Homo sapiens: one gene and its partner. The protein of the gene in region 1 purifies or fractionates together with the protein of each later gene. This does not show direct contact. Each region holds a gene or a part of one and is shown on either strand. Other genes may lie near its edges.

What was found. Proteins that work in one complex are often made in the same cells at the same time.
Region 2: the proteins of HELQ (region 1) and RAD51D purify together in Homo sapiens (affinity purification with mass spectrometry; one study listed by BioGRID and IntAct). This does not show direct contact.

Annotation. Positions count from the first base shown.
Region 1 is NC_000004.12:83,428,324-83,431,823, reverse strand, and holds part of HELQ (helicase POLQ-like), read left to right. Parts: intron 1-55; coding exon 56-160; intron 161-2,077; coding exon 2,078-2,300; intron 2,301-3,500. UniProt on the Homo sapiens protein: Single-stranded 3'-5' DNA helicase that plays a key role in homology-driven double-strand break (DSB) repair.
Region 2 is NC_000017.11:35,106,361-35,109,860, reverse strand, and holds part of RAD51D (DNA repair protein RAD51 homolog 4), read left to right. Parts: intron 1-2,413; coding exon 2,414-2,495; intron 2,496-2,738; coding exon 2,739-2,873; intron 2,874-3,379; coding exon 3,380-3,475; intron 3,476-3,500. UniProt on the Homo sapiens protein: Involved in the homologous recombination repair (HRR) pathway of double-stranded DNA breaks arising during DNA replication or induced by DNA-damaging agents. Bind to single-stranded DNA (ssDNA) and has DNA-dependent ATPase activity.

The sequences.
Region 1 (3,500 bases):
ATACCATTTATTTTTAATAATAACACAAGGCATGGTTTTGCTTTAACCTTTATAGGTATTGGAGTTAATAACTAAACCATTGGAAAACTGTTACAGCCATCTTGTTCAGGAATTCACCAAGGGAATCCAAACATTATTTCTCTCTTTGATTGGTTTGAAGGTATTTTTCTTAAATTTTTTATCTTATTACTGTTATCTGAGACAATAGAGGTTAAAAAGTTATGCAATAACTTTATATATGCAACTGTGTAGATTTTATACTAATTTTTTATTTAATAATTTTTTCTTTTAATTTTTTTCTTTTTAATTTTGTTTTCTCATCCCCTTCAGTGATTAATGTAAATAATTTTTAAAAGATCATGGAATGGTTAGGTGCAGTAGCTCACACCTGTGATCCCACCTCTTAGGGAGGCTGAGACAGGAGGATCGTTTGAGCCCAGGAGTTCAAGACCAGCCTGGGCAACATAGCAAGACCCCATCTCAAAAAAAAAAAGATCACTGAATCCTAATGCTTGGCAAGTGGTTGGCACTTAATAAATACTTGAATTAATGAAATTGGCTTTTTTTTTTCTTAGAGATGGGGTCTTGCTATGTTGGTTAGATTGGTCTTGAACTCTTGTCCTCAACAGTCCTCCCACCTTAGCCTCCCAAAGTGCTAGGATTATAGGCATGAGCCACTGCGCCTGGCCTGTTTTGTTTGTTTGTTTGTTTGTTTTTTCTTTAATCTGGGACATGGTGATGAAATTAACTTTGGAACTGAGCGTGGGTGAACTTCCAAGTTGGGGCATCAGTGGAGAATCTGGATTTGAGAAGCCAGAAGCAGAGGCTGGCCCAGTGGGTTTCAATTACTATGTCAAAAACTTTTTCAGGGAGGAATAGAAAGATAACATGATGGTAGATAGAGGGATCAAGTAAAGGTTCCCCTGCCCCCCTGCACTCTTCCACCCCCAGTGTTAACTCTAATCATTTAGGTAGGAAACAGTACAAAAACAAAGTACATTAATAATCCAAAAACCAAGTATCAGTTCTTAAATATCTTAAAAGTATAATTTTAGCTTAATTGAATACTATATTAATAATGATTTTTATTAAAGTGGGAAGAAGCAATAGAAAATGTCTGTGCTCCATTATATTTTTCTTACCCCTTATATTGGTTTAATATGAAATTACGACTTAAATTTTCCAGTTGAAATAGCATCAGAATTGTAAGAGAGAGAAATATACTTATTGATTGACTATATTTTAGTATAACATGCTGATTTCATTGAAATTGGCTAATAAAAATTATTCTAATTCAGAGTCAGCTCTACATCTGAATACTAAATGGAGGGTTAAGTATTCCTTATGATTGCCATTGTAAGTTATAAATAGTGAATAACAGTGAAAGAACAAGAAATGGAGATAGGAATGAGAGAGACAAAAATAGGTAGAGATCAACTATTTTTAGGTAACATTTTAGGCAAAATATTGTCTGACGCTGTTTTAGTGGAAACTTGTATTTTTTTTTTCAGTTCTTTTTTTAATTTATTTTGTTTTTTGTTTTTTTTTTATTATACTTTAAGTTCTAGGGTACATGTGCACAATGTGCAGGTTTGTTACATATGTATACATGTGCCATGTTGGTGTGCTGCACCCAGAAACTGTTGTATTTTCCTTTTTTTTTTTTTAATGCAACTTTTAGAGCTAAAGGATGTTTTTACAGTTGGGTGGAATGCAGTGCAGGGAAGATCCCTAAAGGAGGCTGAGTGAGAATTAGTGAAAATTGGTTGGGGAGTAAATAGCACAGTTCTGGAGATATTGTGAAAAATTATTTAAAGATCTATCCAAAGGAGTTTTGGAATGAAAAATGAGTACATGTTTTCATAAAAAGCATGAATATAATAACTATCATCCCCCTAAATTTTTTGTTAATTTTTAATTGCCATTATAAATTTATATATGCAACTGTGTAGATTTAATACTAATTTTTTATTTAAATAGCTTTGAGGTATGGAAATGAGTTATCTTGATTAATATGCATTCAAGGTGATGCCTTGAATTAAGGAAAATGCTCCAATGATATCCTGAATTGTTTCAGATTGCAACGAATCTTGATGACATCTATCATTTCATGAATGGTACATTTTTTGGTGTTCAGCAAAAGGTTTTATTGAAAGAAAAAAGTCTCTGGGAAATAACTGTTGAATCACTTAGATACCTGACAGAAAAAGGACTCCTACAAAAAGACACTATTTATAAGTCTGAAGAAGAGGTCCAATATAATTTTCATATTACAAAGTTGGGACGTGCTTCATTTAAGGGTAAGAGTTTACCTAAATCTTATTGATCATAGGAAACACATTGGAAAAAATGAAAATTAAATTATACTTTCTTTAAGCTGGGCACAGTGGCTCACGCCTGTAATCCCAACACTCTGGGAGGCCAAGGGGAGCGGATCACTTGAGGTTGGGAGTTTGAGACCAGCCTGGCCAATATAGTAAAACCCTGTCTCTACTAAAATACAAAAAAAATTAGCCAGGCATGGTGATACATGCCTGTAGTCCCAGCTACTCGGGAGGCTGAGGCACAGGAATTGTTTGAACCTGGGAGGCAGAGGTTGCAGTGAGTCGAGATCACACCACTGCACTCCAGGCTGGGCAACAGAGCCGAGACTCCATCTCAAAAATAAAAAAATAAAAAATTATACTTTCTTTAAGTTGTATTTATAATTTTATATTAATTACATTAATCTTATTTTATAAGCTGATAACTCCTTCAACTTTCAAAAGTTGAAAAATGTTTTGAATTATAAGTACTGCAGAAGTATATAGAGAATAAGGTAGGCATCCCTCCTTCATGCTTCCCTCCTAGCAACCATACAAATCTTAATATTCTACCAAGAATAACAATTTGGTGTATATCTTTCCAGACCTTTACTGTACATTTCATTTCAGTGCATAATATGTACATATGTACAGTTTTAAGTTTTTGTCTTTAAACAAATAATCATTTATATTATTCTGAAACTTTTTATAAATTAAAAAAATTTTTTTTCTTTTTTTAAATATGGAGGCAAAATCTCGCTATGTTTGCCAGGGTGGTCTCAAACTTCTCACCTAAAGTAATCCTCCTGCCTCCCAAAGTGCTGAGATTACAGGCATGAGACAACACATTTGGCCTGCAACTTGCTTTTTTTCCTGAATATAATGTCTTAGAGATTGTTTCATGACAGTGAATAAAGTGTTGTGGGGGTTGTTTTGGTTGGTTTGTTTGTTTGCTTGTTTTTGACAGGGTCTTGCTCTGCTGCCGAGGCCAAAATGCAGTGGCGCAATCTCAGCTCGCTGCAACCTTCGTCTCCTGGGCTCAAATGATTCTCCCACCTCAGCCCCGCAAGTAGCTGGGACTACAGGGGCATGTCACCATGCCTGACTAATTTTTGTATTTTTAGTGGAGATGGGGTTTCACGATGGTGCCCAGGCTGAGGCTTTTTTTTAATGAAAAATAATACATGTCTGTTGTTA
Region 2 (3,500 bases), on another chromosome or scaffold:
ACCTCGTCTCTACTAAAAATACAAAATTAGCCAGGCGTGGTGGTGCATGCCTGTAATCCTAGCTACTCGGGAGGCTGAGGCAGGAGAATTGCTTGAACCTGAGAGGTGGAGGTTGTGGTGAGCCGAGATCACGCCATTGCACTCCATCCTGGGCAACAAGAGTGAAACTCCGTTTCAAAAAAAAAAAAAGTTCAACACTATTAACTATTAGGGAAATGCAAATTAAAAACACAGTGAGCTATTATTTCATACCTATCAGAAAGACTAAAATAAAAAAATAATGATAATACCAAATGCTGATGAAGATGTGGAGACACTGGACTACTCATATATACATTGTTAGCGGATATGTAAAATGGCATAGCCACTCTGGAAAATAGTTTGGTAGTTTCTTATAAAATTAATAATGCATTTACCATACCACCCAGCAATTGTATTCTTGGGCATTTATCCCAACGTTGTAAAAACTTGGGTTTATACAAAAACCTGTAAAAAATGCTTATAGCAGTTTTATTTATAGTAGCCCCAAAGTGGAAACAACCAAATGCCCTTCAATGGATGAATGGTTAAATAAACTGTGGTACATCCATACCATGGAATACTTTTTAGCAGTAAAAAGGAATGAACTATCCATATATGCAATAACTGGGATGGATCTCAAGGGAATGATGCTGAGTAAAAAAGCCAATCGCAGGGCCAGGCACGGTGGCTCATGTCTGTAATCCCCGCACTTTGGGAGGCTGTGTTGGGCGGATCACTTGAGGTCAGGAGTTCCAGACCAGTCTGCCCAAAATGGCAAAACCCCGTCTCTACTAAAAATACAAAAATTATCCAGGTGTGGTGGTGGGCGCCTGTAATCCCAGGTACTCGGGAGGCTGAGACAGGAGAACTGCTTGAACCTGGGAGGTGGAGGTTGCAATGAGCTGAGATTGCACCACTGCACTCCAGCCTGGGCGACAGAGCGAGACTCCGTCTCAAAAAAAAAAAAAAAAGAAAAGAAAAAAAGCCAATCACAAAGGTTACACAGTGTATAATTCTATGTACATAACTTTGTTCTTGAAATAACATAATAGAGATTAGTGGTTGCCAGGGATTCGGGATTAGGGGTGAATGGGAGGAATGTGGCTATAAAAGGGTAGCAGGAGGAAGACTTATAGTGATGGAAATGTTCTGTATCTTGATTATAGTAGTCGTGTAAATCTACATATGTGATAAAATGGCATAGGACTAGACACATCAACACACGTGCTTGAATGCTAGGAACACTGGTGAAATCTGAATAAGCTCTGTGGATAGTACCAACATCAGTTTGCTACTTGTGTGATATACTATAGTCCTTTTTTTTTTTTTTTTTTTTTTTTTTAAAGAGAAAAGGGTCTTGCTATGTTGCCTGGGCTAGACTTGAACTCCTGGACTCAAGTGATCCTCCCACCTTAGCCTCCCAAGTAACTGAGACTACAGGCCCCTGGCTAGTACAATACATTTTGTAGTACAGTTGTTATTATTAAGGTAAACCAGGTGAAGGGTTCATGGACTTTTTGCAACTTCCTGGGAATCTATAATTATCTCAAAGTTGTTTTTTCTTGTTGTTGTTGTTGTTGTTTGTTTTGTTTTTTTGAGACAGAGTCTTGCTCTGTCACCAGGCTGGAGTGCAGTGGCGTGATCTCGGCTCACTGTAACCTCCACCTCCTGGGTTCAAGCGATTCTCCTGCCTCAGCCTCCTGAGTAGCTAGGACTACAGGCGTGTGCCACCATCAAAGTTTAAAAAAAGCGACAAATTTTGGGAAACGCTATCAAGGAAACCCACAAACAGCTGGGCGTGGTGACTCACGCCTATAATTGCAGCACTCTGGGAGGCCGAGGTGGGTGGATCGCTTGAGGTCAGGAGTTTGAGACCAGGCTGGCCAACATGGTGAAACCCCGTCTCTAATTAAAAAAACTAGTCGGGTATGGTGGCGGGCACCTGTAGTCCCAGCTACTCGGGAGGCTGAGGCAGGAAAATCACTTGAGCCTGGGAGGTGGAGGTTGCAGTGAGTAGAGATCACGCCACTGCACTCCAGCACTCCGGCCTGGACAACAAAGAGAGACTCCGTCTCAAAAAAAAAAAAAAAAAAAAAAAAAAAGGAAACCCACAGGGCCTGAGATGAAAAATGAAGGGAGAACCTTCTGATGGGGTGGCAGAGGCCTCTCTGGAGAGCTGATCTTTAAGAGTGGAGGGATGAAGAGAGACCAGAGAAGGCACATTTGGGCATTCCCTCCTTACCAGAAGAAAACACCAGGAGAAGCCTCCTGGCCAGTGATGTTCAAAGACAGAACCAGTGCTTGAAAGAAATGTCTTACTTTTCTTCTTGGTACCTTTTCCCCTGTCTTCCTCCTAACCTCTTGTGTTGATTTTCTTCTCTTCTGCCATCAGTCTTGATAAACTGCTTGATGCTGGTCTCTATACTGGAGAAGTGACTGAAATTGTAGGAGGCCCAGGTAGCGGCAAAACTCAGGTACATGTGAGGCCAGCAGTCAGGAGGATTTAGGGGTGAGGGTGGTAGATGCATAGCCCAGGGTCCCTGGGGGAGCTTCAGCGTACTAATGGGTTCAGAGCCCAACAGAGAGAAGATGGGTAATAAGGAATGGGGTCGGGACTCAGCCCATTTGTGTTGCTGGAATCTGGGCAAGGTTTGGTGGGGAGCTCCCATCTGGACCCTCTCTGAAGTGTCAAGTTCATCCAATGCCCCCACCCCCAGGTATGTCTCTGTATGGCAGCAAATGTGGCCCATGGCCTGCAGCAAAACGTCCTATATGTAGATTCCAATGGAGGGCTGACAGCTTCCCGCCTCCTCCAGCTGCTTCAGGCTAAAACCCAGGATGAGGAGGAACAGGTAAGGGCAGGATGCTGGGTTCCATTGAGATTCTGACACAGGAAAACCCCATTATCCCTTAACATTGTAAGAATTTGGGTTGAATAGTCATTCCTTGCCTTCAAACTTGCTGTTCTATTAATACATCTCGTATTCCTTAAGCCACCCCTGTTGATGCCATCATCCCATTTGGGATGCTACTCACACTGATTCTTCCAGGAAACCCTCCCAACTCTTTGCATGCCCTAAACCAGGGCTGGCAAACACCAAGCTTTGTGTTTCCAGTCCATTTCTCACCTGTGAGAGACATCACTAATCAGTCATATCCCTCTTTCCTGCTGAGTTCTGAGTACTTTACAGCTCAGCACCCAGGCAGCCACCACTGTGACAACTGACCATTAGACAAAGCTCATTTGCCACCCTGGACCTGAGTCCTTGCATCCAGGTGCCTCTTCCTTCTCAGCCTTACCTTGACCCCCCTACTCCCTCTTATCCAAAGTCCTTGCTTTTCTTTTCCACCGCTTCAGGCAGAAGCTCTCCGGAGGATCCAGGTGGTGCATGCATTTGACATCTTCCAGATGCTGGATGTGCTGCAGGAGCTCCGAGGCACTGTGGCCCAGCAGGTGAGCCTGCTGTTCTGCCCCTCCT